2 separate regions of the Homo sapiens genome follow, and region 1 is linked to region 2. Evidence: fine-mapped expression QTL. A gene starts in region 2. The other region holds a variant in brackets. All regions are shown on one strand. Distances are from middle to middle. Region 1 overlaps CA6 (carbonic anhydrase 6). Region 2 holds the start of CA6 (carbonic anhydrase 6).

The links.
Region 1: its variant is fine-mapped to the expression of CA6 in whole blood (TOPMed, PIP above 0.99). The same link has a PIP of 0.9 or more in blood mononuclear cells.

What each region holds. Positions count from the first base shown.
Region 1 is chr1:8,961,300-8,977,722 of GRCh38, forward strand. CA6 (carbonic anhydrase 6) reads left to right here. Exons shown (of 8, transcript NM_001215.4): 5 at 1,288-1,357; 6 at 6,360-6,517; 7 at 9,568-9,682; 8 at 13,323-13,793. The coding sequence ends at 13,405. Among named protein-coding and RNA genes, the nearest start is that of CA6, 24 kb to the left of the region's middle. RefSeq lists an enhancer at 1,691-1,985. The variant C/T (reference allele first, on the strand shown) is at 9,014.
Region 2 is chr1:8,936,631-8,953,053 of GRCh38, forward strand. CA6 (carbonic anhydrase 6) reads left to right here and starts at 9,238. Exons shown (of 8, transcript NM_001215.4): 1 at 9,238-9,335; 2 at 12,633-12,812. The coding sequence starts at 9,257.

The DNA.
Region 1 (16,423 bases), 25 kb after region 2:
TATATTTTTTGTGTTTTCTTCTTTTAATTTCTTTTTAAAAACCATCAAGATTATTTAAAGCAATGACTATACCACTGACTTATAATATATGTAGATATAATGCATATGACAAAAATAGAAGGATGAGGATGAAATAGAGCTCTTTTGAAGCAAAGTTGCTATATTTTACTGAAATTAAGTTAATATTAACCTGACATAGATTGTGATTGAGTTGTATATGGTAATCATTTGAGCAACCACTAAGAAAATAACTAAAAATGATTAAATGGTAAATGAGAAGTATTTGCTTAACACAAAAGAAGGCAGTAAAGGTGGACCAATGCAACAAAAAAGGCACGAGACATCTAGAAAACAAATAGCAAATGCAGTCATAAAGCCAAGAAAGCCAAATTTATGCACAGTGAAAGAGATCAACACCACTTGACTGAAAAGAGCCATTGAAAATAGACCTTTTTCACCCAAAGCAACTTTTCTGACTGTTAAAGTCAATACTCATTCAGAAAGAGTGACCTGGTGTTGGGGGAATTGTAGTCGTTCTGCCTTGGACATCTGGCTCTCTGTCGGAAGTCCTGAGGATGAAGAAGGGAACTTGTGAGATCAAGCCCTCCTCATCACAAAGAATCTGACTGTGGCTGACACTGCCCAAAACAAGTGCACAGACCAGGTGCGGTGGCTCACGCCTGTAATCCCAGCACTTTGGGAGGCCGAGGTGGGCCGATCACCTGAGGTCAGGAGTTGGAGACCCACCTGGCCAACATGGTGAAACCCCATCTCTACTAAAAATACAAAAAAATTAGCCAGGTGTGGTGGTGGGCACCTGTAATCCCAGCTACTCGGGAGGCTGAGGCAGGAGAATTGCTTGAACCCTGGAGGCAGAGGTTGCAGTGAGCCGAGATTATGCCACTGCACTCCAGCCTGGGGAAGAGAGCAAGACTCTTAAAAAAAAAAAAAAACTCACAAACAAACAAACAAAAACAAGCGCACAGGGGACTTTTTTAGAGTAAGAGTTGGCCATTTCTGAGGGCATCACCAATGACTGACAAGCTTCTTTCCCTGGAAGCTGCCAAAATACTTCAGATAATGCCTTTCTGGAAGGACTCATGAACCTGCGTGGTTGGTAGCAAAGAACAGCCAGACTGTCTCTGCCAAAACACAAGACGGCACAGGCTGCCTCTCCTTACTCTCTAGGCTCGGCCCAATCCGCTAGAAAGCTGAGTGGCTGGATTAGTAGCGATGGTGCTGGGGCCTCTTCTTCACTTACGCTCAGTGCTCTGTGTTTCTCTGCAGGTGAAGAATTACCCTGAAAACACTTATTACAGCAACTTCATTTCTCATCTGGCCAACATCAAGTACCCAGGTAAGGGAAGCCAACTGTGGCTGCAGGAGGGAAGGGGAATGAGTGTGAGTGTGAGTGTGAGGTGGGCCCAGGGGGCAGGGGATTGATGCTGGTGGGGAGGGTGGCCCGTGGGCCCTGCCAAGGGAGTCCATCCCTCCCTGTGCCAGGTTACTTGTTCCAGTGATTTCTGCTGTTGGCTTAGGCAGCAAACCTCTCTGAGAAGCCTGTGCATAAATTCGATGTGTCATTTCCCATGATTGGAACTTCTGACTGGAGTTGCACTAAGTAGGCATATCCTTGCTTCGATGACTGTCACCTCAGCTGGCAGTGACAGTCCTGGCAGCTAGAGAGATGTCCACCTGGCTCCAAGCTGAGATGAATGTCAAGAGGGAAGCCCTCGTCATACCACTTGGACATCCAGACACTCGGGGTGTTCTTCCGTCCCCTCTCCTCCAGAGGGCGGCGTTCTTGTAAGAGCCATTTCCCACCCAGGGTCAACCCTTGACTTTTGAGCTATAACCACAATAGCTCTGCATCCTCGACTTCACACGTCCCATTCCGGCCACACCTCCCAGCCTCCCAGTCCTCTGACTTCAGCACCCAGCCCCTCCTGCAATTCACCTGACCGGAGTCCTCCAAACCTGGGGCTTCCACATTCTTGCTCCTAGTGACGCCTGTGTCCTTTCATCTCTCTCCCAGCTTAGATTCCACCCCGATACTCTCAAGTCTCCCTCAACACTCCCATGCAAACACCCTCTAGCCCTCACCCCTCCACCCCTCCACAAACTCACCTGGCAAATCTCCAGACCAACTCTGGAGTTTTTTTAGTTATTTTCTTAGTGGTTGGCTGGCAGCCAAACAGCTGAATGCAACTGGACAGAAATCCATAGACATCTAACTGGTATTATTATCGTTATTATTTTTGAGACATGGTCTTGGTCTGTTGCATAGGCTGGGGTGCAATGGCGCGATCATGGCTCAGTGCAGCCTCGACCTCTGGGACTCAGTTGATCCTCCCACCTCAGCCTCCTGAGTAGCTGGGACTACAGGTGCACCACCATGCTTGGCTGGTTTTTTTGTATTTTCAGTAGAGACAGGGTCTCACCATGTTCTCAGGCTGGTCTTGAACTCCTGGGCTCAAGTGATCTGCCTGCCTCAACTTCCCAAAATTTTGGGATTATAGGCATGAGCCACCACACCTGGCCAACTGGTATTATTTTTTATTCATAGCTACAAATATGAACAGTGCCCAGAAATCCTAAAGTATCACGCTGGGCATTTTCTTTCTGACCTCCCAAATTCCTGTCACATGCTTTCTCCTCTCTCCTGAAGCCCCTGTGCCTGGGCTCCAGCAATTCCCCTGGAGCTGACGCTCCCACTCCCACTCCATTGAGAAGACAGAAGCCACAGGCCAGAAACACTCCGCTCCTTAACCCACGTGCATCTGGACCAAATTCCACATCCCCTCTTCAGCTGCAACGGATGACAAATCCCTGCTCTTGTCAACACCACCCCTCCCACGTGGGGCCCAACCCCACTCCTCTCCCATGCTCAGGGCCTCCTTTCCTGCTATTCTCTCCCTGGTCTTCTGCATCGTTGATTTCTCTCTCTCTCTCTCTTTTTTCTTTTTGGAGATGGAGTCTTGCTCTGTCACCAGGCTGGAGTGCAGTGGCATGATCTCAGCTCACTACAACCTCCGCCTCCCGGGTTGAAGTGATTCCCCTGCCTCAGCCCCCTGAGTAGTTGGAATTACAGGCACACACCACCATGCCTGGCCAATTTTTTGTATTTTAGTAGAGACAGGGTTTCACCATGTTGGCCAGGATGGTCTCGATCTCCTGACCTTGTGATCTACCCGCCTCGGCCTCCCAAAGTGCTGGGATTACACGCATGAGCCACCGTGCCCGGTCTGCATCGTTGATGTCTTACTCTTTATTAAAGCCTCCTGCTCAGCACACACATCTGCCCTAATTCCTCCCACCTCCAAACACAAGCAAACAAACGTTATCTCCTGACCTTACCATTCCCCAGCTTCCCCCAGTTCTCTGGCTCCCCTTGAAAAGGTCATAGAATAGTCCTGTTCTCCATTCTCACCCACCCCACCCTGAGCTGGCCCCAATGCTCCACGGAGCCGGAGTGACGGTCAGATCTATGGGCCACTCTTCTTCTCGTCTTAGTTTACCTTCAAAGGGTGGTCTGGCGCGCCCCAGCTCTGCCCTCTCACTCTCTTTCTGGCTCCTGCCCTAAATGTTGGGTGGAGTCAGGCTCTGTCTCATCTCAGTGACTCCACGCAGTCCCACAGCCTGAATTAAAACTTACCACTTAAGGCTGGGTGCGGTGGCTCACACCTGTAATCCCCTCACTTTGGGAGGCGGAGGCGGGCTGATCACCTGAGGTCAGGAGTTTGAGACCAGTGTGGCCAACATGGTTGAACCCCGTCTCTACTAAAAATACAAAAATTAGCCAGGCATGGTGGTGCACGCCTGTAATCCCAGTTACTCGGAAGGCTGAGGCAGGAGAATCGCTTAAACCCGGGAGGTGGAGGTTGTAGTGAGCTGAGATTGTGTCGCTGCACTCCAGCCTGGACGACAGAGCGCAACAACATCTCAAACAACGACAACAACAACAAACTTACCCCTTAAACCATTTTAAATGTACAGTTCAGTAGCATTAAGAACATTCACAGTATGATGCAACCATCACCCCGCTCCATTGCCGGAACTTTTTTTCGTCTTCCTAAACTGAAACTCTGTACCCATTCAACAGTTACTCCCCATCTCCCCTTCCAGCTTCTGGTAACCACAGTTTCTGTCTCTAAGAATTTGACTATTCTAGGTACCTCATATAAGTAGAATCAAACAGTATTTGTCTTTTTTTTTGGTCTGGATTATTTCACTTAGCATAATGTCTTTTAGGTTTGCCCACATTGTAGCATGTTATCAGAATTTCATTCCTTTTAAAGGCTGAAGTGGCTGGGCGAGGTGACTCACGCCTGTAATTCCAGTACTTTGGGAGGCCAAGGCTGGCAGAGCACTTGAGGTCAGGAGTTTGAGATCAGCCTGGCCAACATGGTGAAACCCCGTCCCTACTAAAAATACAAAATTAGCCAGGTGTTATGGAGGGTGCCTGTATTCCCAGCTACTCAGGAGGCTGAGGCGGGAGAATCGCTTGAACCCGGGAGGCAGAGGTTGCAGTGAGCTGAGATTGTGCCACTGCACTCCAGTCTGGGTGACAGAGTGAGACTCTGCTTCAAAAAAAAAAAAAAGGCTGAAGTATATTCCATTGTGTGGATATATGATATTTTGTGTATCCATTTATCTACTGGTGAACATTTTGGTGGCTTCTACCTTTTGGCTATTGTGAGGTAACGCTGCTATGAATATAGGTGTACAAGTATCTCTTTGAGTCCCTGCTTTCATTTCTTTTGGGTAGATAGGAGTAGAATTGCTGGGTCACATAGTAATCTATGTTTTTTTAATTTTAATTTTTTTTTGTTTTTTGAGACAGAGTCTCGCTGGGGCGGGAGTGCAGTGCCTTGATCTCGGCTCACTGCAACCTCCGCCTCCCAAGTTCAAGCGCTTCTCCTGCCTCAGCCTCCCGAGTAGCTGGGATTACAGGCACGTGCCACCATGCCCAGCTAATTTTTGTATTTTTAGTAGAGACGGGGTTTCATCATGTTGGCCAGGCTGGTCTCAAACTCCTGACCTCAGGTGATCCACCCGCCTCGGCCTCCCAAAGTGCTGGGATTACAGGTGTGAGCCACCATACCTGGCCGTATGTTTATTTTTTGAGGAACTATTATACCATTTTCCGTGGTGGCTGCATCATGATTCTGGAATTCTTGACTTTCACTTAAATATATTAGAGTTACAAAAATAAATCTCTACCACAGAGCCCTTTTGGAGGTTATATCTTGAAATCTTCCAATAATAATCAAACTTAGAACTCTTTTGCCTACTCATGGGCTTATGCACTCTGAGACATTGTGGCCTTGGTTGAACAGGCCTATCTACGTATGTATCAAAACTATGTTCTCTGCCTTTAAGAAGCGCAGAAGTGCTCAGGGAAAGTGAAGCAAAATCCAACTCAATCCTGTGTTGCCTTGAGAGTCTTGTGCTGAGCTCAGGGGCTCAGTGTTGTTGACATGAATGAAACAAGGACCTCTCTAGAGCAGGAGCAGGTGTGGCTGCTGCAGGAGTTTTGCAGGCCTGGTGGAAGTGGCCCCACCCTACGCCCCACCTGTGGCTGGGCTTGGTTTCCAGCGGTTGTGGCAGGAAGAGCTCAGGACCAAATGCCTGTACCTGGACCCTGGCTTGGTTCTGATTCTGCATTTATTATTTAAAAAAATAATAAAAAAAACAACTTATTGTAGAGACGGGGCCTCCCTGTGTTGCCCAGGCTGGTCTTGAACTCTTGGCCCCAAGCAATCCTCCCGCCTTGGCCTCCCAGAGTGTTGAGATTACAAGCGTGAGCCACTGCGCCTGGCCTGATTCTGCATTTACAACTGTTGTCTACCCACTTCTCAATGAGCCCAAACCAAGGCATTTTGGTCTTTCTTCAAGGGCACTTACCCAGAAGTCTCCAGGGGCCATATTTATTTCTTTCATTGATCATAAAATGTGTCCTCTGCCTAGCCATGATAATGGTGACCGCAGCAGTTACACTTAGGAGTACTTCCCTATGTAGTGGTTCAATGCCAGCTGCTTTCCAGACGTTATTCCTTCTTACCCTCACAACAATCCTGCTGATTATTCCCTTTCTACAGATGAGAAAATGGCCGCAGGGTGAGCACCCGGCCAAGAGCACTCAGCCAGGAGCAGGTGTCTGAGTGCGTCTATCCCCAAAGTCTCTCCTCTCAATCCCTTCCAGGAAGAAGTAAACTGGGAAATTGTTTCTTAATCATCAGCTTCTATGTTCTGCTGAACTCAAGAGATTGGAACCTGGCGAGGCCTGGGCCTGAGCTGTCCTCCCGAGGGGCAGCGCTGGTCCCTGACATTCTGTTACCTTCTGTCTTCTTGGTCAGGACAAAGAACAACCCTGACTGGCCTTGACGTTCAGGACATGCTGCCCAGGAACCTCCAGCACTACTACACCTACCATGGCTCACTCACCACGCCTCCCTGCACTGAGAACGTCCACTGGTTTGTGCTGGCAGATTTTGTCAAGCTCTCCAGGACACAGGTAATGTATGGTATCACTTTGCCGAAGTCTTCCCATTCGATTGCCTGGTTAACAAGGGTTCTCCCCAGCATCTCAACGAACGTCAACAACTAAGGGGTCCTACAGTATTTTCTGTGTGCAGGGCTACTGTGCCTCGTCTAGCCAACCTTTTTTTTTTTTTTTTTTTTGTGAGACAGAGTCTCGCTCTGTCACCTGGGCTGGAGTGCAGTGGCACGATCTCAGCTCACTGCAACCTCCGCCTCCCAGGTTCAAGCAATTCTCCTGCCTCAGCCTCCCGAGTAGCTGGGACTCCAGGAGTGTGCCACCACGCCCGGCTAGTTTTTATTTTTAGTAGGGACAGGGTTTTATTATGTTGCCCAGGCAGGTCTCAAACTCCCAGGTTCAAGCAGTCTGCCTGTCTCAGCCTCCCAAAGTGCTGGGATTACAGGTGTGAGCCACTGCACCCGGCCATCTCCTTTTCTTAAACTTTTCATTTCCTTAGAAAAAGGTGGAAAAGACCCCTGCTCAAGGACACTCACACTCCAAAATGTTGCCAGTCAGGCTAGAAGTGCCCCCAGACACCTGACAAAAGCAAATGGTAAATTATCTCTGGGAAAATGACCTTAAATCCAGACCTAGAAGAATTTTCACAAATAAAGTTACTTGAAATTAGCTCAATTAAGAAAAAAAAATACAAAACATATGAGAAAAAAAGACATTATAGATGAGAACCAGCAGAATCAGACCTACAAAGACTTCAGTTAGTGGAATTATCAGACAATTAATATGACATAAGAATGTTTAACATGTATAAAGAAATAAAAGGTTTAAATATGAGAAAAGAGCAAAAAAGTATAAAAATGGACATCCAGACTTGGGACAAAAACTCAAATAGAATTTCTAGAAATGGAAAAATAGTATCAAAAATTAATAATCCAGGCCAGTTGTGGTGTCTCATGCCTGTAATCCCAGCACTTTGGGAGGCCAAAGTGGGTGGATCACCTGAGGTCAGGAGTTTGAGATCAGCCTGGCCAACATGGTGGAACCCCGTCTCTACTAAAAGTACAAAAAATTAGCCAGTCGTGGTGGTGGGGCGCTTGTAATCCCAGCTACCCCAGAGGCTGAGGTGGAAGAATCACTTGAACCTGGGACGTGGAGGTTGCAGTGAGCCAAGATTGCACTACTGCACTCCAGCCTGGGCAACAGAGCAAAACCCTGTCTCAAAAAAAAAAAAAGTTTGCTGGGCACGGTGGCTCAAGCCTGTAATCCCAGCACTTTGGGACGCCAAAGCGGGTGGATCACGAGGTCAGGGGTTCGAGACCAGCCTGGCCAACATGGTGAAACCCTGTCTCTACTAAAGATACAAAAAATTAGCCGGGCATAGTGGTGTGAACCTATAATCCCAGCCACTCAGGAGGCTGAGGCAGGAGAATCGCTTGAACCCAGGAGGCGGATGTTGCAGTGAGCTGAGATCATGCCATTGCACTCCAGCCTGGGCAACAGGGCAAGACTCCATCTCAAAAAAACAAAAACAAAAACCCAATGAATGGGTTTAACGCATGTTAGATACAGTTTGAGAGAGAATTAGTAAATTGGAGACAGCCAATAACATTATCTAGAATGCAGCACAGAGAAAAGGAGATGGAACTATGAAAAGAAGTGAAGAGACATTGTGTACTGGAAAGGTCTAGTAAATGTCTAATCAAAATCCTAGAAGGAGAAGAGAGGCAGAGTAGGGAAGAGGCATGATTTGACAAAATATTGGCTGACAATTTTCAGGAAGAGATACCAAGTCATATATTCAAGAATGCCAATTAGTTTCTCTCTCTGTCTCTCTCTCTCTCTGGGTGTGTAGATATGTGTGTGTGTGTATACACAACATCCTGCAGTAAACGCATCACATTGAAATCATCAAAGACAAAGAAACTATTTAAAAATTAGCCAGAAAGAAAAGACAGATTATCATGAAAAGAGTATTATTAGACAGAGAGTTGATTTAACAGCCACAGTGAAAGTCAGAAGGGAGTGGAAACATAATTTCAAAGTGCCGAGGGAAAAAAAATAGCCAATATAGAATTGTATGTGCAGCAAAGATGCCTTTCAAGGATATAGACAAAATACAGACATTTTCAGGTCAGGTGAGGTGGTTCATACCTGTAATTCCAGCACTATGGGAGGCTGAGTGGGCGAATGGCCTGAGGAGTTTGAGACCAGCCTGGCCCACATGGTGAAACCCCATCTCTACTAAAAATATAAAAATTATCTGGGTGTGTGGGTGGGTGCCTGTAGTCCCAGCTAGTCAGGAGGCTGAGGCAGGAGAGAATAACTTGAACCCGGGAGGTGGAGGTTGCAGTGAGCCGCAATCGCGTCACTGCACTCCAGCCTGGCGACAGAGCGAGACTCTGGTCTCAAAAAAAAAAAAAAAAAAAAAAGAGAAAAACCTGACATTTTCAGAAAAACAAAAATTGAGTTTGCCACTTGATATATTTCTGCTTCTTCTTTCTCTCCTTTCTACTA[C/T]TGGACAAATACTCATATAAAAAGCTGAAAAGAGAGCTTGTGTGCAGATACCTGTTGGAAGAATGCACGGATAGATTAGTTCTGGAATAATGCCTGAGACACAGCACCCAGAACCTCCCCTGGACTTGAGATCTTCTTACAGTCACTTCATCAGGGTTATATAAATCCAAACTCTAGCCCAGTTGTTAATTCTTTTTTATTTTTTATTTTTTTTGAGACAGAGTTTCTCTCTGTCTCCCAGGCTGGAGTGCGGTTGCGTGATACTGGCTTACTGCAGCCTCTGCCTCCCAGGTTCAAGCGATTCTCCTGCCTCAGCCTCCTGAGTAGCTGGGATTACAGGTGCACACAACCATGATCAGCTAATTTTTAGTAGAGAAGAGGTTTCACCATGTTGGCCAGGCTGGTCTCCAACTCCTGAGCTCAAGTGATCTGCCCGCCCCAGCCTCCCAAAATGCTGGGATTACAGGCGTGAGCCACTGCGCCGGGCCAACTGTTATTTCTTTTAAATTACCCAGTGACTCTTCCCCTCCATAATGCACTCACGTTGCCCCCAGGTTTGGAAGCTGGAGAATTCCTTACTGGATCACCGCAACAAGACCATCCACAACGATTACCGCAGGACCCAGCCCCTGAACCACAGAGTGGTGGAATCCAACTTCCCGAATCAGGGTGAGTGAGACCGACTCTTGATCATGCTCTGCAGTTTAACTCCTGTTTTGCTCCTTCCTCTAGGTGGACCCATCTCTTCTGGTGATATAAGGGAAGGAGAGTCATTTCAGTAGCAAGAGGCTCAGGTGGGCCAAGCTGCACAGGGCTTGGGCAGAGGGTGATGACTTTTTCCCAGTCCAGGCAGGGATGCCAGTGAGTAGAACACACGAGACAATCAGAAGCGACAGCTACGTGATTTATTACCTACCTAGTCTTGGCTAGAGAGAGCAGGAGAAGCAAGAAGACCACAACATCCGGAAGCTCTCACAAGAGTGTAGGTTCAAGTTAACCTTTTTTTTTTTTTTTTTTGAGACAGAGTCTCACTCTGTCACCCAGGCTGGAGTGCAGTGGTGCAATCTCGTCTCACTACAACCTCTGCTTCCCGGGTTCAAGCAATTCTCCTGCCTCAACCTCCCCAGTAGCTGGGACTACAGGCACCTACCACCACGCCCGGCTAATTTTTTTTTTTTAACTGAAATGGGGCTTTGCCATATTGGCCAGGCTGGTCCCAAACTCCTGACCTCAGGTGATCTGCCCACCTCGGCCTCCCAAAGTGCTGGGATTACAGGCGGGAGCCACCGTGCCTGGCCAAGTTAACCTTATTAACCCCACCCAGATTATTTCCTGCGCATCTTGATCATAGTCTGTGTTATGAACCCACCCCCAACGCCTCCTATACATTCTCTCAAAGTGGAGTTAACTAGACCACATATTGTTCCCTGCATCTGCCTGGGGCGCAGGCCCCAGACCCCAGCGTGCTGGAAGCAGGTGCGGGCAGGCCAGCCTCCGCTGCATCCTCCAGTTCCTTGGATCAGGCTCCAACCGTGTCCTTGGCTCACCTCGTTTCTGTGTTGGCAAGAGTGTAAATATTTCACAGCCTCCTCATCTTTATTTTGTCTGCTTTCTGTAAAGTTGTGGTGAATCCATTGTCTTTACAGCCCATTCTGTTAACCATTCCTGATACCTTTATATTTTCCAATACAGTAGAATCAGTATCCTATCAATATTGTGTACTCAATATTATCCCACTTTTTTTTTCTTTTTTGAGACAAGGTCTCAGTCTGTTGCCCAGGCTGGAGCTCAGTGGCACAATCACGGCTCACTGCAGCCTCAAACATCCAGGCTCAAGTGATCCTCCCACCTCAGCCTCCCCAGTAGCGGAGACTGCAGGCACACACCACCACACCCAGCTAATTTTTTTTGTAGTTTTTGTAGAGATGGACTCTTACTATGTTGCTCAGACTGGTCTCAAACTCCTGGCCACAAGCAATCCTCCCCCCTCAGCCTCCCAAAGTGCTGGGATTATAAGCACGAGCCACCTCGTTCGGCCTTATCCCATCTTTATATGTACCTTTTAAAACTTAAATTTCCTCCGGGTGTGGCGGCTCACGCCTGTAATCCCAGCACTTTGGGAGGCTGAGGCGGGCAGATCACGATGTCAGGAGATCGAGACCATCTTGGCTAACATGGTGAAACCCCGCCTCTACTAAATATACAAAAAATTAGCCAGGCGAGGTGGCGGGCGCCTGTAGTCCCAGCTACTGGGGAGGCTGAGACTGGGGAGGCTGAGTAGCTGGGCATGAACCCGGGAGGCGGAGCTTGCAGTGAGCCGAGATTGCGCCACTGCACTCCAGCCTGGGCGACAGAGAGAGACTCTGTTTCAAAAAACCAAAACAAACAAACAAACAAAAAAATTAAATTTCCACCTCCCCAACCCGAATAAGGCCTATTTGTGATTTTCTCCCCACCTTTCCTTCCTGGTTCACTTACTGAATTAACAGAGGATATAGGTGTTTTCTATATTGTTTCCTGAAATACAATTCACTCCTCCAATACAATACTAACAGAAGAAAAAAACTGACATCAGTTACAGTAATCATTTCCCCATATTATACCATATACAACATTAACAGCAAGAATCCCTTTGTCCGAAAGTGATGTCGTCTTTAACAGGTCCAATTGCAAGCAGGCTGACCAAAGGGAGCTTAGACTCATGGGTCTGTCTCCTAATTCTTTTGGAGTCTCTCACTCTGTCGCCCAGGCTGGAGTGCAGTGGTGCAATCTCATGGGCTCACTGCAACCTCCGCCTCCCAGATTCAAGCAATTCTCCTGCCTCAGCCTCCCAAGTAGCTGGGATTACAGGCACGCGCCCCCACGCCAGGCTAATTTTTGTATTTTTAGTAGAGATGGGATTTCACCATGTTGGTTAGGCTGGTCTTGAACTCCTGACCTCAGGTGATCCGCCTGCCCGGCCTCCCAAATTGCTGGGATTACAGGTGTGAGTCACTGTGCCCGGCCTGTCTCCTAGGTCTAAATGTTGCCATATTTCCCCTGCTTTCCCTAAAACAATTTTACGCTATTCTTGCAATAGTCACTAACAGACTGCGTATCGTTCTATTTGCCACATCTGAAATGCTTTTTCCACTACAGCGTCACTCTAGCATCTCCTCACGAGGGGGTCAGATGTTCTAGGTACCGGCCCCAGACTGAGGTATTCCATGCTGTGATTTGTCTGTAGGTCCACTAAGAATCGCTGTTTAGGATCGATTACTTCAACTCCCAGTTCAGCATCAGAGGGCTTCCTTACCCCCAGGGAACCCGAATTGTGGCCTCCCTTTGCTGATTATAGAACAGACAACTGGGCATCATCTTGGCCCACCTTCCCTCAGGCCTGGATTTTTCTTTCTCTCTCTTTCTTTCTTTCTTTCTTTCTTTCTTTCTTTCTTTCTTTCTTTCTTTCTTTCTTTCTTTCTTTCTTTCTTTCTTTTCCCTCCCTCCCTCTCTCTCTCTCTCTCTCTCTTTCTTCCTCTCTTTCTTTCTTTTTTTGACAGAGTCTTGCTCTGTTGCCCAGACTGGAGTGCAATGGCGCAATCTTGGCTCACTGCAGCCATGACCTCCAGGGCTCAAGCAGTCCTCCTACCTCGACCTCCCAAGTAGCTGGGAGTAGCATGTACCACCACACCCAGCTAATTTTTGTATTTTTTTGTAGAGACGGGCTTTGGCCATGTGGCCCAGGCTGGTCTCGAACTCCTGAGCTCAAGCAATCCACCCACTTCAGCCTCCCAAAGTGCTGGGATTACAGGCATGAGCCATCGCGCCTGGCCAGGCCCAGATTTCTATGTAGCAGTGATTGGCTGTGGTCAACCCAGCTGCGTGACTCATGGTATTTCACTGTTCTGTAGAGAACTGTATCCCAGCGGGGTTGATATGATTAACCCACCTGCAAGGAGTGAATTGAGAAACCAAGGTCAGTTACAAAAACAAGACGATGGCCAAATACGGACCTCTTGCGATTTATTTACTAGAAAACGCCTATATCCCCTCAGGCAAGGGCCACGGGGGGCATCGTGGGAGAAGCCAAAATCCAAGAGTACAGCCCACCTCAACACGCCACCCCTTGGCTCTGGGCAGCTTAGAAGCCTGAGTTCAAACACAGTGAAGATGACTAAAGGCAATGCACCGGGCACGTGGAGAGCATTCTAAGGAATCAAAAGACTTCCCAAAAATACGATGCGGGTATGGTGTCTGGCCGTCCCCCTTCTCTGTTTTTGTGAGGACTGTACAAGGTTTAACCATTTCCGACTAACTCTTCTTTTTACAGAATACACTCTAGGCTCTGAATTCCAGTTTTACCTACATAAGATTGAGGAAATTCTTGACTACTTAAGAAGAGCATTGAACTGAGGAAAGCTAAGAGGAAGATTCAATATTAACTAGCTTGAAGCCTGACCTAGCCAGAAGTGCCTGTCCGCTGCAGCCGCACCCTACCTTGTCTAAGAAACCATGTGTGTCTGGAACACGCTGCTCCCCCTGGGGCAGCTGTTGGGATTCTGATTAAAAGAGGGGAAACGATCATCCTGGACAGGAAGTGAGATGGCTTCAGTTCATGAGACGGGATCTGAGTTAGACATCACCAGTGGAAATTGATTGGAATAGAAACTTAAAGGAAATGGAACCCTAACTATTCTCCCATCAAATCATATATGTTGACCTGTCTGAATTATAAACCAGCCTGACCTTTCCTTTAGCATTAGATGTAATAAAATAACTTTGGAAATTTGTCATTTAAAAATTTCTTTCCTATTCCTTTGTATTACTTCAAATATCCCTTCTTTGTTCTGCCCGCCCCCGACTCCTCCCCCCACTCCTCCCCCTACTCCCCCACAACCGCACATAGGTGAAGGGATAGAGATCAAAGTGGGAGGGATTTCCAAGACTAAGATTAATAAAAAGGAAGGAGGTGTTTTTTGTTGTTGTTGCTTATTTTTTTGAGATGGAGTCTCACTCTGTTGCCAGGCTGGAGTGCAGTGGCACAATCTTGGCTCACTGCAACCTCCACCTCTTGGGTTCAAGCAATTCTCCTGCCTCAGCCTCCCTGAGTAGCTGGGACTACAGTTGCGCACCACCATGCCCAGCTAATTTTTTGTATTTTTAGTAGAGACGGGGTTTCACCATGTTGCTCAGGATGGTCTCGATCTCTTGACCTTATGATCCGCCCGCCTCGGCCTCCCAAAGTGCTGGGATTACAGGCGTGAGCCACCGCGCCTGGCCTTTTCTTTTCCTTTGAGACAGAGCCTCGCTTTGTTGCTCAGGCTGGAATCCAGTGGTATAATTTTACTGCAACCTCTGCCTTCTGGGTTCAAGCAATTATTCTGCCTCAGCCTCCCAAGTAGTTGGGATTACAGGTGTGCACCACCACGCCCAGCTAATTTTTGTATTTTTAGTAGAGATGGGGTTTTGCCATGTTGGCCAGGCTGGTCTCAAACTCCTGATCTCAGGTGATCCTCCTGCCTCGGCCTCCCAAAGTGTTGGGATTACGGGCGTGAGCCACCACCCCTGGCCTAGGAAGAGATTCTTACACTGAGAATTTGTCAGTGGGGAAGTTTGGAGCAGTGGCTGTGAGTCAAAGAAAAAACAGGAGACGAGAAAGAAGAAGGGCTCCCAGGACAGAAGGAAAGAAGAGAGGGGACCTCACTGCAAACCCCCTTGTTGGTCAAATGGTGCCTGGTCCTTGTTACCAGACCCAGATTCAGGCATCCCATTAGTTATGTGGGATGATAACATGACCTCACAGGGCTCATAGGGCTGTGGCTTCATTAAATAACACTGAGAAGTACCCAGAAGAGTGACCCATATTTTTTTTATCATTAAATAACACTGAGAAGTACCCAGAAGAGTGACCCATATTTTTTATTTTTATTTTTATGTTTTTTGAGACAGGATCTTGCTCTGTGGCCTAGGCTGGAGTGCAGTGGTGATCCTAGCTTCATGGCAGCCTCAACCTCCTGGGCTCAAGTGATCTTCCTACCTTTGGTCTCCCAAGGTGCTGGAATTATAGGCATGAGCCACCACACCTGGCTGCTACCAATTTTCTTGGTCACTTATGCATTCCCTTCATCGATGCCCCTTCCTTCCCATGCCTTAGCTTCCTCCTCACTTCTGATTGAGCTCACCCTGGCTCTTCTGAATTCCTTCTGCTCTTGTTACCTCTGTTGTTTTTCCATGTCATTATTTGTCATATCCTAAGCACTTCCACCACACGTGACTGCCCTCAGCCCCGAAGGCCACCTTCAGTGAACTTGCATTATCCCCAGTTTACAGAAAGCAAACCAAGACGTCGACTTGCCCAAGATCTCCTAGGTGGCAGATGAAAAGCCAGGATTTGAACCCAAGTCTTTTGTATCCACATTCTTTTAACCATAGGAAGCCTCCCTTTCATTTTCTCAACAAGCTTTCTTATGCACTTGCTCTGAGCCTGACATAACACTAGGTGCTGGGGGTTCAGGGATGGGTGAGAACAGCTCCCACACTCCTACAGCTCGGGTCTGGTGAGCAGAGTGGACACTAAAATAAGTAATCGCCATATCGCCCCATGGTGGAGGGAGCGCCTGTGTTTAAAATCCAAGTGCTTGGCCTGGGTTTTGAAGGCTGAGAAAGAGTTCACCTGGGAAACCAAGTCAGAGAGGGGCGGGGGTATTGTAACCCGAGAGTGTGGCATGTGCTGATGGGAAGACACCTGGGGAAGTGGAAGCAATTTGGCGTGGTCAGAGGACCAAGTTCAAGGATGCTGGCACGGAAAGCGGGGGTGTGGCCAGGGCAGGTCAGGCCGTCACTGGTATCTTCTGTGCCACTAAAGGGTTTCGGATTTTACCCTGTAGGTGACGGCAGCGACTGCAGGGTTTCCACAGGGGAACGACACGGTGCGATTCATTCTTTCCACCAGATATGTGTGTCTATAATGAATGAGAGACGCAACAGTGGGCGGTACGGCCAAAGAGCTTACTTACATTCCTGTGGGAAGGCAGACAAGGAAATGAAGATGGAGATGGGATTACACTTGCCTGTCCTCAGGGATCCAGCCCTCCCACCCCTGAAAGTCTATCCTTAAGAGAGGCTTGTGGCCGGGCGCGGTGGCTCACGCCTGTAATCCCAGCACTTTGGGAGGCCGAGGTGGGTGGATCATCAGGTCAGAAGATCGAGGCCATCCTGGCCAACATGGTGAAACCCCATCTCTACTAAAAATACAAAAAAATTAGCTGGGTGTGGCGTGCATCTGTAATCCCAGCTACTCGGGAGACTGAGGCAGGAGAATCGCTTGAACCCAGGAGGCGGAGGTTGCAGTGAGCTGAGATCGTGCCACTGCACTCCAGCCTGGCGACAGAGCAAGACTCCATCTCAAAAAAGAAAGAAAGAAAGAAAGAA
Region 2 (16,423 bases):
ACTGCACTCCAGCCCTGGTGACAGTGTGAGGCTCTGTCTCAAAAATAAATAAATAAATAAATAAATAAATAGAAGAAAAAAATATGATAGAAGTTTGTGTGGACACTAAGTAAAAGACTGCATATTTTTTTTTTCTTTTCTTTTCTTTTTCGAGATGGAGTCTCACTCTGTTGCCCAGGCTGGAGTGCAGTGGTGTGATCTTGGCTCACTGCAACCTCTCCCTCCCAGGTTCCAGTGATTCTACTGCCTTAGCCTCCTGAGTAGCCGGGATTACAGACATGCGCCTGGCTAATTTTTTTATTTTCAGTGGAGATGGGGTTTCACCACTTTGGCCAGGCTAGTCTCGAACTCCTGACCTCAGGTGATTTGTCCGCCTCAGCCTCCCAAAGTGCTGGGATTACAGGCCTGAGCCACTGCGCCCGGCCACAAGACTGTATATTTCTGATGTGGAGCTTCCCTCTTCATGCCAAACTGTGATTCAGCCAAAAGTTGACTCTTGTATCTTGGGTGAGGGAGGCCACATTCAAGGAGTGCTGGTCTGAGCACGGTCTTTTTTTTTTTTGAGACAGGGTCTCACTCTGGTGCCCAGGCTGGAGTGCAGTCACGTGATCTCAGCTCACTGCAACCTCCGCCTCCTGGGCTCAAGCGATTGTCCCACCTCAGCCCCACAAGTAGCTGGGACTACAGGTGCAAACGACCACAACTGGCTTGTTTTGTTTGTTTGTTTGTTTGTTTGTTTTTGAGACGGAGTCTTGCTCTGTTACCCAGGCTAGAGTGCAGTGGCATGATGTTGGCTTACTGCAACCTCCACTCCTGGGTTCAAGTGATTCTTCTGCCTCAGCCTCCCGAGTAGATGGGACTACAGGCATGTGCCGCCAGGCCCAGCTAATTTTTGTATTTTTAGTAGAGACAGGGTTTCACCATATTGGCCAGGATGGTCTCGAACTCCTGATCTCATGATCTGCCTGCCTCGGCCTCTCAGAGTGCTGAGATTACAGGTGTGAGCCACCGTGCCCAGCTCCACCTGGCTAATTTTTGTATTTTTTGTAGAGATGGGTTTTTACCATGTTGCCCAGGCTGGTCTTTAACTCCTGAGCTCAAGTGATCCACCAGCCTCAGACTCCCAAAGTGGTAGGATTACAGGCGTGAGCCAGCGAGCCCGGCTCACACTGGGTGTTTGACCCTGCTTCTCTCTTTACTGTTTTGCAGGTTACCAGGACTTTTCCAGTCTAGTCAGCTGACTCTAGTCATATCACTGTGACCATTAAGAGCTCAGAAAAAATGTCCTGGCAATAGTACATTCTTTGGACAGGCTAGCCCTTGTTCATTTGGCTCCTCTATGACTCTTCATTCCTGGTATATTTCATGACATTGCTGAGTTATTACTCCGTTCTCTGAAGTCTAAATCCAATTTTCAGCAACTCATGGTTTAATTTATCTTGGTAATTCCCAATATCTTTGTGGTAGGCTGAATAATGACCCCCCCCAAAATGTCCACATCCTAATCCCCTGGAACCTGTGTATGTTACATTACACGGCAAAGGGGACTTGCATATGTGACTAAGTCTCATCTCATCATCCTGGATTATCTGGGTAGACCCTAAATGTAATCACAAGGACCGTAATATGAGGGAGGTCAAGAAGATCAAAGGAGGAAGTGAGGGAGGGGGCAGTTAGCAGCTGGTTAGGCAGATAGAGAGGGAGGGTCTCTGGAGAAGGACAGAGTGGGACAATGTTCACAGAAACAACTGAAGAACAGCTAAAGGGAAGAAATGTGGTTAAGAATTTCCCCTTGTGCCAGGATGTTGCTCAAAAGTGACTGTCCCAACCAAGGCGCAGGTGCAATAAATCAACCTAAATGTCCTTCACTTGACCCAGCTCATTATAATGTCATTAACATAACATTAGCATTGTGGTTTTAGCCCCCTGGTGGGTTTTGTTTAGGCACTCATGGATAATAACCAAGATGGAGTCACTCTGGCCAACCCCAGGCGTATACAGATGCAACACTCCTAGGAGGGAATTTTACCCTCCCATTTGAGCAAAGCCCACAAAAGACTTCCTGGCTTCTGCGGCATAAAAGACACAGAACTCAGCCCTGTTTCTGGCAACTTGCTTTTGTTGCAATAAACTGAGGAATGGAGAGACCAATATGAGAGAAACAGGAGGATTGTTTATTTTCGGTATGCACTGGCTCAGTGGACTCACATCCAAAAAGCTGAGCATTGAACAAAGACAGAGTGGGGTTTTTATAAGTGGCCTTACAGAAGCAAAACAAAAGCAGTTAATCATACAGTGACAGGTCACGTAATCTATAGCATAACATAATTTGTGACCTTACATAGCTGGTGGCCTTGCAGCTGCATCGAAAGAAAAACAAGAGCTGGCTAAATACAGACATTTGTAAAACATAATAATGCTTAAGAAGACTGAGAAAAGAGTAACAGTAAAATAATCTGTCTTTCTCTCTTTTTTCCCCCTCAACCTTGCTCTGGAAGCAGGGGAGTGTCTGGAGCCCATTCCTTTGGCCTTGGCTATTCCGACAGCGTTGTTAACAGTCCTTGAAATGAGCTTGCTAAGCAGAGGAAAACTTGTCCTTTTCTTTTTCTTTTGAAACCTTGCCTTGCCACATTCTGGGCCTTAGCTTTTACTTTTCTTGGGGTGAATAAGTGCAGTACTTATTATTATGATTGTTATTTTTAAATTTCTGCCTCGCTTTCAGGACCCCTCTCTTTGCTGAGAGTTTTCCTTTTGTTTAATAAATCCTGTTCTATTCTACTCACTCTCCACTGTCTGTGTGCCTTATTCTTCTTGGTCGTAGAGCAAGAACTCGGACCTAGCTGCACTAAGGACTAAGCAAACTACAAAGGAAGCAAGAGATTGGAGTGATTCAAGGAAGAAGCCACGAGCCAAGGAATGCAGGTGGCCACTAGGAGCTGAAAAATGCAAGGGAACCGATGATCCCCTCAGAGCCTCTGAAGGAGCCACCCCTGCCCATACCTTGACTTTAGCCCAGTGAAACTGGTTTTGAATTTCTGACCTTTAGATCTGTAAGATAATGAACTTGTGTTGTTTTAAGCACTGAGTTTTTGGCAGTTTGTTACAGCAGTGGGAAACTAATACAATCCTCTGCTTGCATAATCGGTCCCTTAGGCATGAGGGGAGGGTGACGACTCATTATGCATTTGATCAGGAAGGGTGGATTTGACCTGCTTATTGACCAGGGAAGGGTGGAGCTGAAAGGCATACAAACCTGCCATGCAGATGTAAACTAGGGGTGGAGCATACTGAAGAGATATAAGCAAGACTCTGGCCTACTAGGGGTGGAGCACACTGAAGAGATATAAGCAAGACTCATGGATAATAACCAAGATGGAGTCACTCTGGCCAATCCCAGGCATATACAGATGCAACACTCCTAGTAGGGAATTTTACCCTCCCATTTGAGCAAAGCCCACGGAAGACTTCCCGGCTTCTGCCACATAAAAGACACAGAACACAGAACTCTACTTCTACAAGAAGTAGAAGGTAGAGCCAGCAAGAGATACAAACAGAACATCCAATTCTCGTGGCAGGAGGATGGTGAGTTTGCACAGAGAAGGGGCACAGGATGATGGCAGGCTGAGCTGTAAATATTTTTAGGTATTTGGTTCCTATTTTGCTTATACCTAAATTAATGATAGAAAAGAGGATTTCCACTAGGGTTTTGGGCTGATTGCTTTTGGATGTGGGTTACTGGTACCCAGTGGGGAAGAGGATAGAGACACAGGAGGAGATGCCTGTTGGGAGACAACCCTACCCAACAGGTGCTGAATTCCAGGAGGATGTGTGAGGCTGGAGATACTCTCTAAGACTGGGGAACTCATCACCAGGAGGCTAGTGAGAGAAAGCAAGGGCCCCCCCGTGGAGTTGGACCTGACTGTAGCTGGATATTTTGCGAGTGGGTTAGTTTACACAATGACTTGTCAATGCTCCATTTATATGGATATAGCTGAAAGTCAGAAAGGAAATAGAAATCTGTGAGTTTAGCATCAAAATGCCGAAGGCATTTCAGAGTGTGTGTATTTTAGGTAGAGGACAGTCTCTGGGCTGTTGGCTTAGCTCTATCCATTCTTCTTGGACATGTAATTTTAAGAAGTGTGGTCATCTGGTTTCTGCCAAACAGATGAGGAAGCCAGGAGATGAGAACAGACAGACAACCCTAAGAGGCAAGAGCTGGAAGCCCATGTTAGAAATGCTAATAGTGGGCCAGGCGCGGTGGCTCACACCTGTAATCTCAGCACTTTGGGAGGCCAAGGCAGGCGGATCACCTCAGGTCAGGAATTCAAGACCAGCCTGACCAACATGGTGAAACCCCGTCTCTACTAAAAATACAAAAATTAGCCAGGCATGGTGGTGGGCGCCTGTAATCCCAGCTACTTGGGAGGCTGAGGCCGGAGAGTCACTTGAACCCGGGTGGTGGAGGTTGCAGTGAGCCGAGATCACGCCATTGCACTCCAGCCTGGGCAACAAGAGTGAAGCTTCATCTCAAAAAAAAAAAAAAAAAAAAGAAAAGAAAAAAAGAAAGAAATGCTAACAATGAAAAAACAATGAAAAACAAAATCAATACACACACAATGGTACCTCCAGCTGCTCCTGCCGCTCAGCCCTTCCCAAGAACTTCCCAATCTCCCTACAATCCACCAATCCAGGGTTAACTCCTGGCAGAGCAGGGAGCTTTCAGACTTTCCTCCACACCAAGTCTGGCTTCTGTCCTGATTGGTTATGTCCCAGCCTTATGGATACCCCTGAGCATAAACGTGCATTGCTTTAGTAATCAATTAAGCTAGCTAACTTTCCTCTCTCAGTATCTGGTAAAAGAAATCCAAAAACTACAGTTAGGGGTCATTTCTTTCCTTTCTTTCTTTTTTTTTTTGAGACGATGGAGTCTCCCTCTTGAGCCTCCCGAGTAGCTGGGATCACAGGCACATGCCACCATGCCTGGCTACTTTTGTATTTTCAGAAGAGACGGGGTTTCACCATGTTGGCCAAGCTGGGCTCGAACTCCTGACCTCAGGTGATCCATCCCCCTTGGCCTCCCAAAGTGCTGGGATTATAGGTGTGAGCCACTGTGCCTGGCCAGGGGTCGTTTCTTGCAGGGAGAATTATATATATATGTTATATGTTATAGGCCCAGCAGACATCAATATATTACAATGCAGGAGAATAATTGATGTTCATATTAGTGGGACTCAGTCATTAAGAAAAGTTTAATAAAATTCAGCTTTATCTTTTTAAAACTGTACCGTACATTTTAGAGGTTTTAAACATCTTGGTGCTTACATAGGATTGAGCCTGTAACCATCTAGAACTTACTTGTTCAGAGTGACTCATTCTTCAGGATGAGCTCACACTCCTGCATGAAACAGAACAATAGCCTTTCTGTGTTACTTACACCCAAATAAGCATATTCTTGTGTAGGCAGACTCTTTCTTTTTTGTTTGTTTTTTGTTTGTTTTTGTTGTTGTTTTTGAGACAGAGTCTCGTTCTGTTGCCCAGGCTGGAGTGCAGTGGCGTGATCTCAGTTCGCTGCAACCTCTGCCTCCTGGGTTCAAGTGATTCTCATGGCTCGGCCTCCCAAGTAGCTGGAATTACAGGCACGCACCACTATGCCTGGCTAATTTTTGTATTTTTAGTAGAGACGGGGTTTCACCATGTTGCCCAGGCTGGTCTTGAACTCCTGACATCAGGTGATCCACCCACCTCGGCCTCCCCAAGTGCTGGGATTACAGGTGTGAGCCACCGTGCCTGGCCTGCCAGACTCATTCTTTTATGCTGGTCCTGTGCAGCCTGGGCTAACGGTGCCTCCCTAGTCATTTGGTTCATGATCTGTCCCTGCTCACCTGGGCTGATGGTGCCTTCTTGCCCACCTGGGCTGGCCATGCCTCCCTGCCTCCTTCTTTTTCCTTGCCTCAGTGGGCCTTGTCGGGGGGGCAGTGGTAGAAGCAAGGAAGAACAAAGGCTCCTTTCTCCCTTTGACCTGATGTTGTAATAATGATAAACTTGTCAACTCATCTCCGACAGCCAATCCAACCATAGACCCTAGAAAAATAGGAGTTTAGAATTAAAAAAACAACCTTGATCAGCCAAGGATATGGTTGGATGAAGGCAGAAGGAAGCTCATAGCATAGAGAGACACACTAAAAATAAAAGCAACAAAAACAGAGCACACATAGGGCACGCACCTGTTGTCCCAGCTACTTGGAGGGGATGAGGCGGAAGGGGGTGCTGAGGCGGGAGGATCACCTGAGCACTGGGAGGCTGCAGTGAGCCATGATTGCACCACTGCACTCCAGCCTGGGCAACAGAGTGAGACCCTGTCTCAAAAAAGAAACCAAAAACCAAAAACAACAACAACAAAAACCCACTGCCACCACCACCAACAAAAGCAAACCCAAACAAACAATGTGCCTCCCAAATCCAAGAAGAAGACTCATGTTCAAAGGTGACGGAAAATTTCAGGTTTGAAGTAGACAAGGAGTCAGAAAATAGGCAACACTACTGACCACACCTGATTCTGGGTCCAGTATGTCCTTGGCAGTGTGCTGTACAGCGGAGGGAGGGGACCCTCTCTCTAGAAATATGCCCTCGTTGGCAGATGGCCTTGCTTCTCCAAGAGGCCATCATCTGATCTGACCCCCGTATTGCCTTAATTACTCACTTTCACACCAATTCTCAACACCAGCCAGGTCAACAGGTTGCTGGCCAGTCCAGGCTCTTGCCTGAGCGAAAGGCAAAACCAGGGCAAAGCTTCAGATGTGATGGGTGGATACGCTGCACAGCAGTTCTGCAGAGGGGCTGCTGGCATCACAGCTTCACAGACGCAGTATGTGCACTGTATTTTAAGGAGCTGTGTGAGGCAAGGAACGCCCCAGAGCTCTCCTGGGAAGCCCCAAATGCTCACCGCAGGGCAGTGAGACCCGTGGGGCTGGGAGCTGCCAGGAGTGGTGGGCCCTCTGCATTTCACTGTGCTCTCCCGCAAGCACTCCTCTCTCTGACTCTCCAGGGCCCCTCTTTGGGCAGTCTTCCCCTCCCCCTTGGCCCAGGCTTTCTCTGAGCTCCTTCCTGCTCCAGTTCCCCTCGCCTGGGCTCATCCAGTCCTCCCAGGCTTCCGTGACAGCCTGACATTTTAGTCTCTGCCTGCCTGCAGCTCCCTGATTCTTTCTGGGTCTCCCAATTCAGATTCCCAAGAAAAAATTCAGATGACTGAGTTTGTGTTTTCCTGCCAGTTTGATGTCAGGGGTCCTGCCTGGGCTTGTAAAGGGTCTTGGTCTCCTCAGCAGAGGTGGGGCCTTGTGATTTACAAGGTGGCCCTTTCCGCAGGGCTGGGAGTCAGCAGGTGGGCGTCACTGGTTTAGCAAGGACAGAAGAGTAGGTTTCTCATTTTTGCAAAGAAATGGTCCATAAGCTGGAGATTGAAGCATTTTTCCTCCAGTTCCCTCACTAACCAGCTGGGTGGCAATGATAAATCACTTCCTTTTCCTATAAAATGAGGGGTCTGAATAGATGCTAATGCCATTTGCTACACACCAGGCACTGCTCCAACTACTGCAGGCACATTTATTGCCGAATCCCCACAAAGGAGGTGCTATCACTAACTCCTTTTAAAGAAAGGAGGCGGCCAGGTGCGGCGGCTCACGCCTGTAATCCCAGCACTTTGGGAGCACGAGGCGGGAGAATCGCTTGAGTCCAGGAGTTTGAGGCCAGCCTAAGCAACATGGTGAAAACCTGTATCTACAAAAAGTACAAAAATTAGCAGGGCGTAGTGGCATGCGACTGTGGTCCCAGCTACTTGGGAAGCTGAGGCAGGAGGATTGCTTGAGTCCAAGAGAAGTGAGCTGAAATCGTATCATTGCACTCCAGCCTGGTGACAGAGAGAGACCCTGTCTCAAAAAAGAAAGAAAGAGAGAAAGAGAGAAAGAAAAGAAAGAGAGAAAGGAAGAAAGAAAGAGAAAAAAGAAAAGGAAGGAAAGCTGAGGCACAGAGCGCTGAGTTGCCCATGGTCACACAGTTAGCAGGTGGCACAGATCCTGTCTAGTTTCAGAATCCTTGTCCTTGAACATGCTTTGCTCTCTCTCTGAGATTCTTTCAGCTCTTGAGCTTTAGAAATGGAAGTTTCCAGCAAGTTCTTTGCAGCAGCTGATGTTCCCTATTAAATGACAGTGGGGAGTCTTAGAAGTATTCGGGAGGCCTACGTTCACCGCTAACATCCTTGTTGTGAAGGCCTGCTGACGTTTGCCATTCCAGGACCAAGTGGACAATGAGTTAAGCTAGGCCAGGAGGGGGTTCAGCTCCCCATAACAAGGCAGGGGTGGCCCTTTGTGTCCGGCAGCATGGTAGCCCCCCCGCAGGAGCTCCGGCTACCCTTTGTGTTTGACCTTGTGGAAGGGCATGGGAAATGCTGGCCTGTCAGCAGGCATAAACTCAAAAGTTTCTCCTTCAGCTAATTTCAGGGACTGTCTAGCCAAGTGAATACACAGGATTAGGTAATCCATGGATCCTGCGAGGGCAATTGGCTGATTGGCTTAGGTGTGCCCAAGAGCCCTGCAGGTGTCAGAACAAATCCATGTAGAAATGCAGACGCCCACACCAGCTTGAATGGCATAAAGGCACACATTGGAATGTGGCTCATGAGCTGGGACCCAGGATCAACCACTGGTTTAAGGAGAGGACCGTGAAATGTCCAAACATGGAGGCCAGGCCACCTCCCTGGATGCCTGGCTGAGGGCAGCCACATGTCTGCAGCGGTGGCTTGTGTCCATGACTGAGATGGGCAGGGTTTGCAGGCAGTGGTGATCCCATCAGCAGTCCCCAGATCTCTAATGTCAGGAGAAAGAGCATGGGAAGTCCGACGTCCAGGAAAGTCTTTCATCCTGCTTCTCCCTGCCTTGGGCCTTTTCCCATTTCCGCGGTCACCTGTCCACAATGGCTGCACTGTGTGGCTCTTCAGGTGTTCCTAAGACACTGAACAACCAAACCCATGGACTGACCGGATATGAAATTGACGTGGGAGGAGATCAGGCAGGTGCTGGGGCTGCCTGGCGCAATGCACGGAGCCAGAAGTGCTGTTATGGGGAGGGTGTTATTGTTTTAGTGGGTGCAGCAAAGGGTGGTTTAGCCAGCTGGGCAGATCAATTGTAAATTGTTATTTACAGTTTCTGAGCCTTTAAAAGAAGAGCTTCGCCGGAATCAGTCTTCATTACAGATGTGCAGCACCATGAGGGCCCTGGTGCTTCTGCTGTCCCTGTTCCTGCTGGGTGGCCAGGCCCAGCATGTGTCTGACTGGACCTACTCAGGTGAGCCCCTAGCTTCTGCATGCTCCCCCAGTTACCCTCACACCCTTACAACAGGACAAGTGCCCTTCTTCTTCTTCTTTTTTTTTTTTTTAGACAAAGTCTTGCTCTGTTGCCCAGGCTTGAGTACAGTAGTGTGATGTTGGCTCACTGCAACCTCCGCCTCCCGGGTTCAAGTGATTCTGCTGCCTTAGCCTCCCGAGTACCTGGGATTACAGGTGCCTGCCACCATGCCTGGCTAATTTTTGTATTTTTAGTAGAGACAGGGTTTCACCATGTTGTCCAGGCTGGTCTCGAACTCCTGACCTTAGGTGATCTGCCCATCTCCCAAAGTGCTGGGATTACAGGCATGAGCCATTGCGCCCGGCCAAGAGTCCTCCTTTAGGGCATTTCACAGGATGGCCAGGCAGCCCACTTGCCATATGTTGGGGGTCTGCTCATTGTGGCTTCAGATGTTACCTTTTCAGTGTCTCAGAAGGTATGGAGAATAAGCTGAACTTAAACTTCAAATAAGGAAAAGAAGGAAATAGCTTTCCCCTTCACAAACTCCTGATTTACTTACAGGCTTTTTGCTTTAAATTTTTTTCCATCCACAGTGTTGGCTGGTTCAAAAGCACACTCACTGCTTCTATTTGTAAAACCATTTGCTTTGTTGGTCCGTGTAAGTGGAAAACAAAGTTCTTAGAAAAGACTCTCGGTAACCTCACGGAAGGTGCTGTGGGGTTTGCGAGACCTTCTTTCTTGGAAATTTCATGGTAGGCAGTTTACCCAGAACATCTTGACATAAGGACCCAGTTCCCTTTGATCTGTGGGCTGCCAAAATGAGAGGTGTTTTTTTTTTTGTTTTTTTTTTTTTTTTGAGACAGAGTCTTGCTCTGTTGCCCAGGCTGGAGTTCAGTGGTGCCATCTCGGCTTACTGCAACCTCTGCCTCCTGGTTTCAAGCGATTCTCATGTCTTAGCCTCCCAAGTAGCTGGGATTACAGGCACTCATCACCATGCCTGGCTAACTTTTGTATTTTTAGTGGAGATGGGGTTTTACCACGTTGGCCAGGCTGTTCTCAAACTTCTGACCTCAAGTGATCCGCCCACCTTAGCCTCCCAAAGTGCTGGGATTACAGGCGTGAGCCACCGCGCCAGGCCCCAAACCAGACTTTTAAAATGTGAAATGTAAAATCCTGGCATTCAACATGGGTTCTGGTCCACATGTGAGCCAAAGCTAGAAGGCCGTGTCTGTGGACTTTGTGGACACTAAACAGCCCTTTCCAGGGGCAGTGAGGAGAGCTTCTTCCCGCATCCCCCTTCTTTCCATACGGGACCATGGATTGGGGCCCATGAGGAGGCTGGTGGCCGCTGGCTGATGCAGGAAGTGAGACAAACATCTGCTTCCTGCAGAGTCTGCCCCAGTTCAGCTGCTCCGGAAGCATTCCTTCAGGGTGAACGGGATGATCTGTTAAGTCAAGGGCAACGGAATTAGGGACATCCTGGGAGGTTCAGAAAGTCCAGCCAGCTCTGAACAACCGCTCTGTTCCTGAGGACAGTGATCTTACACATGGCAGTGCCTCGGAAGCCTGGGGCATTCTGCTTCACTTGGCCAAGCAGTGCAGGCAGGTGGTTCAGAGGTGAAGGAAGAGAGAATTCAGACAATGAAGTCCTTGTCCTTCCCAGGCTCTGCCCAGCCTCTGAGACAGTGGGCTTCCTGGGAAACTACTAGGGGCTCCAGGAGAACTTGAGAGTAGCTTTTGTAAATGCCTTCCAGGGAAACCTGAGAGATGTTCCAGTATTGACAGTGCCCTGGGCCAAAGCATCTTGCTCTGAGAAGGCGTTGTGCTCCAGGCCAATTGCCTTGATTACAAACCAAAAAGCGGTGAGGGCCCTAGTACAGACACCTTTTTTTTTTTTTTTGAGAGTTTCACTCTCGTTGCCCAGGCTGGAGTGCAGTGGCGCGATCTCGGCTCACCGCAACCTCTGCCTCCTGGGTTCAAGTGATTCTCCTGCCTTAGCCTCTCAAGTAGCTGGGATTAACGGCATGTGCCACCATGCCCGGCTGATTGTTTTTTATTTTTAGTAGAGATGGAGTTTCTCCAGGTTTGTCAGGGTGGGTCTCGAGCTCCCAACCTTAGGTGATCCACCCGCCTCGGCCTCCCAAAGTGTTGGGATTACAGGCATGAGCCACCGTGCCCAGCCACAAACACCTGTCTTAAAACAAGCTGTGTACTCACCACACAGCTACCCCCGAACAGGGAACAGAGGTGGGATTCTCCATGTCACATGGCTGACTCCAAGCTCCACAGCTGTATGGGAGCCAAGTCACCATGATAATCACTCACCTATGTTACTCTGTCCCCTACGATTATCAACCCTCTCTGAAAAGATAAACTTTCTCCTTATGAATTTTAAAAAAGTACTCATTCTAGGTTGTCCTGGAACCTGATGCTTCCTTAGTTTCCCTGAATCCATAAGTGTAGACACCTAGATGGTCTTTACCATACGGGAATCCATAAAAGGGGCTGGAGCAAGAAAATAGTGGTGGGGGGTTCCTGCAGCATGGGGAGGTGGGGGCTGTGTTCCTGTTGGGGGCATGGAAGGACAACTGGGCCCTTGGGAGGAAATGAGGAAGAGGCCCCAGGAGCAGCACAGGAAGAGCAAAGCCAAGGATCCCTCCATGCATTCACCAGCTGGAAATAAGTCAAACGAGAGCAAAAATTTACGTATAAAACACTCTCAGGCCGGGCACGGTGGCTCACGCCTGTAATCCCAGCACTTTGGGAGGCCAAGGTGGGTGGATCACCTGAGGTCAGGAGTTAGAGATCAGCCTGGCCAACATGGTGAAACCCCGTCTCTACTAAAAATACAAAAATTAGCCAGGCGTGGTGGTGCATGCCTGTAATCCCAGCTACTCCGGAGGCTGATGCCGGATAATCTCTTGAATCTGGGAGGCAGAGGTTGCAGTGAGCCAAGATTGCACCACTGCACTCCAACCTGGGTGACACAGCGAGACCCTGTCTCAAAAAAAAAAAAAAAAGACTTCCATTGATTTCAAAACACTGTCTTGCTCCCAGGGCCAGCAGTTGCCACAGGAAAGTTAGAGGTTAGCACCAAAGCCCCCCAAACACCAGAGTCCTTGGAGTTGACCTCGTTGTCTTTTTGGCCTCCTTCTGGGGGACCTGCTTCTGCTTTCTGGAAGGTGCCTCCGTGGGTCCCCGCCCAGCAGGCCCTGGCCTCTGGCCTCTGGCCTGGTGAGGTTCCTCCAGAGTGGGCGCAGCCAGGCAGCCCCTTGAACTGTGTCTTTCCTGTCTTAGAAGGGGCACTGGACGAAGCGCACTGGCCACAGCACTACCCCGCCTGTGGGGGCCAGAGACAGTCGCCTATCAACCTACAGAGGACGAAGGTGCGGTACAACCCCTCCTTGAAGGGGCTCAATATGACAGGCTATGAGACCCAGGCAGGGGAGTTCCCCATGGTCAACAATGGCCACACAGGTAAGAGGAAGGGGTGGTGAGGGGCTCCAGTCCATGGGCAGCCTGCAGGGGAAGGCAGGTTACACGTGTCCCTGCCAGGAATGGCTTGCACAGAGACACAGAGCACGGCCTCAGAGCTGGAGGCCTCGAACATGAGGGTCGAACATGAGGGCTGACTGGCCCCGAAACCTAGTGGCTCTTCCAGAGAGGGCAGCATCCATCTTTCGACTCAACTCCCTGCTGGTCCCTTCCTGCAGCGTTATCCTCTTACCCGAGCTCACCCAACCCACCCAGCAGGTGACAGGCAGGACAGGCCGTGCTGCTGAAGCCACCCTTCCCACGGGGGCTTTCTGTCCATCACCTTGGGTCAGCTTTTCCACATTTCCTATATTGAGTCTATTCAGCTCAAAGCACCTGACAGGTAGGACCAGGGTTTCTCAGAGTTTTAAGAAGAAAGCTCTGGCTTTCTGATCCCTACAAGAAAGAAGGTGAAGGTCAGACAGAAAAAGCAGGGCCGTGGGGATGCCCCACTTCAGGAATCCGATATGAGAAACTGTAAATTTTGTTTATTTTTTTGAGACAGAGTCTCACTCTGTTGCCCAGGCTGGAGTGCAGTGGCAGGATCTCAGCTCACTGCAACCTCCACCTCCTGGGTTCAAGCGATTCTCCTGCCTCAGCCTCCTGAGTAGCTGGGATTACAGGCATGCACCACCATGCCCAGCTAATTTTTTTTGTATTTTTAGTAGAGACGAGGTTTCACCATGTTGGCCAGGCTGGTCTGGAACTCCTGACCTCAAGTTATCTGCCCACCTTAGCCTCCCCAAAGTGCTGGGATTACAGGCACGAGCCACCATGCCCGGCCTGGAAACTGTGAAATCTGTGCTTTACTTGTGCAGAATATCCTCCTGATTTTCCAAGTTGGCTCGACTCCTCTGAGCCTCATGACCACCCCAGGAGGGGGCATTTTTTAGGCAGGAAGTCTGAGGCCTCAGGAGGTCGAGGGACTCACCCAAGGCCACACACTGTCTAATGGCCAAGATGGGCTCACACCCCCAGTTGTCAGGTTTCTTGGCCACATCCTCCTTAGGTTCTGCACTCTCTCACTCCTGCTTGGGTTGAGATACATCCCTGCCTGCCACACAGCGATAGGACAGTCACTGGACTTGGCCAGGCATGGTGGCTCATGCCTGTAAACCCAGTACTTTAGGAGGCTGAGGTGGGAGGATCACTTGATGCCAGAGTTTGAGACCAACCTGGGCAACTTGGTGAGACTTCATCTCTACAAAAAATCAAAACATTAGCCAGGAGTGGTGGTGAGTGCCTGTAGTCCCAGCTACTCGGGAGGCTGAGGTGGGAGGATCACTTGAGCCTGGGAGGTCAAGGTTGTGGTGAGCCGAGATTACCACTGTACTCCACCCTGGGCAACAGAGCGAGACCGTTTCTTTAAAATAAAAAAATAAAAGGGTCACAGGACTTAGTGTTCTTATCTTGCACAATCAAGAAAATAAAACCAGCCTGGTGAGGTGGTTCATGCCTGTAATCCCAGCACTTTGGGAGCCCGAGGCAGGCAGATCACCTGAGGTCAGGAGTTCGAGACTAGCCTGGCCAACATGGTGAAACCTTGTCTCTACTAAAAACACAAAAATTGGTTGGGCGTGGTGGCGCATGCCTGTAATCCCAGCTACTCGGGAGGCTGAGGCAGGAGAATCACTTGAACTCAGGAGGCAGAGGTTGCAGTGAGCCAAGATCGTGCCATTGCACCCCAGCCTGGGCAACAAGAGCAAAACTCCATCTCAAAGAAAAAAAAAAAAAGAAAGAAAGAAAACCAATTGTCCTTTATAGGGTTGGTGAAAGTAGCAAATTGGAGAATGAAGCTCTGTCTGTAAAAGGACTCAGGTTTATGTGGCCAGGAGCCCTGAAATACACAAAGAATGAACAAAAGCCTCATTTTCATCATAATGTCGAGCTCTTGTTTCCAAAGTTACTCTCTGATGCTTCCAGATTGGCAGGCGGAACTCTTCCTCCCCTCCTTGTCCTCTCCTTGTGGAGAAGGGGCGAAGCACAAAGGCCAAAGGCAGTGGCTTTGTTCACCCTCCCTGGACAGCTGGTGGGAAGCAATCATTGATGGAGGATCTCTATGGGCAACGCTTGCTGAGTGCGGGCTTCGTGCTGAGGGCCCAGAAGAGGGAAGGCATATGGAAGAGAAGAGCCCAGCTTCCCAAGGGGCTTGCAGCGGCTCCCGCCTCCCAATTTCCAGAGGACCCTGTACCTTCTTCCTTTAGGGCTCTGCTCAAATTTCTGTGGTCCGGAAGCCTGTTCCTTTGGGGTTCTCACCTCACACGACAGCATGTCGGACATTAGAGTGGACCCAAAGTTCACATTAATTATATATATATTAAAAACAATTTTTTTTTTTGAGATGGAGTCTTGCTCTGTCACCCCGGCTGGAGTGCAGTGGTGCAATCTTGGCTCACTGAAACCTCCACTTCCCAGATTCAAGCAATTCTCCTGCCTCAGCTTCCCTGGTACCTGGGACTACAGGCATGTGCCACCACGCCCAGCTAATTTTTGTATTTTTAGTAGAGATGCGGTTTTGTCATACTGGCCAGTCTGGTCTCGAACTCCTTGCCTCAAGTGCTCTGCCCACCTTGGCCTCCCAAAGTGCTAGGATTACAGGCACGAGCCACCAAGGCTGGCCATAATTCCATTTTTCGATGTAAAGGGTTTTTTTCTGAGATGGAGTCTCACTCTGTCACCCAGGCTGGAATGCAGTGGCATGATCTTGGCTCACTGCAACCTCTGCCTCCTAGGGTCAAGCAATTCTCATGCCTCAGCCTCCTGAGTAGATGGGACTACAGGCGCACACCACCACCCCCAGCTAATTTTTGTATTTTTTGTAGAGATGGGGTTTCAGCATGTTGGCCTGGCTGGTCTCGAACTCCTGACCTCAAGTGATCCGCCCACCTTGGCCTCCCAAAGTGTTGAGATTATATGCATAAGCCACCGTGCCCAGCCTGATATAAAGTATTTTGAAAGATTTTTATAATTTAGCTTTTGAAGTTATTTGGCTATTGCCATTGGCTACTTTTCAGCAAGCTCCAAGCACATTCAGGAATTCTACTGAAGGGGGAAAAAAAGCTAATCTACAAACTTTGAATCTAATGAGATTTTGATGAACACTAAGCTTAACAGTAAAGTTGACATGACGTATTAAAGATTTGTTAATTTTTGGTTTTGCAAGGTTCTTTTATTTGAGACGAAGTCGTGCCCTGTAGCCCAGGCTGGAGTGCGGTGGCGCGATCTCGGCTCACTGCAACCTCCGCCTCCCGGGTTCAATCAATTCTCCTGCCTCAGCCTCCTCAGTAGCTGGGATTACAGGCATGTGCCACCACGCCTGGCTAATTTTTGTATTTCTAGTACAGACAGGGTGTCACCATGTTGGCCAGGCTGGTCTCAAACTCCTGACCTCAAGTCATCCGCCCACTTCGGCCTCCCAAAGTGCTGGGATTACAGGCATGAGCCACCATGCCCAGTCAGGTTTTGAAAGGTTTCTAATCACATGTATCGAGCAATCATTTCAGTGTCATGAAAATCCTGTGTTCCACCTGTTCATCTTTCCCTTCCTTCCTAAA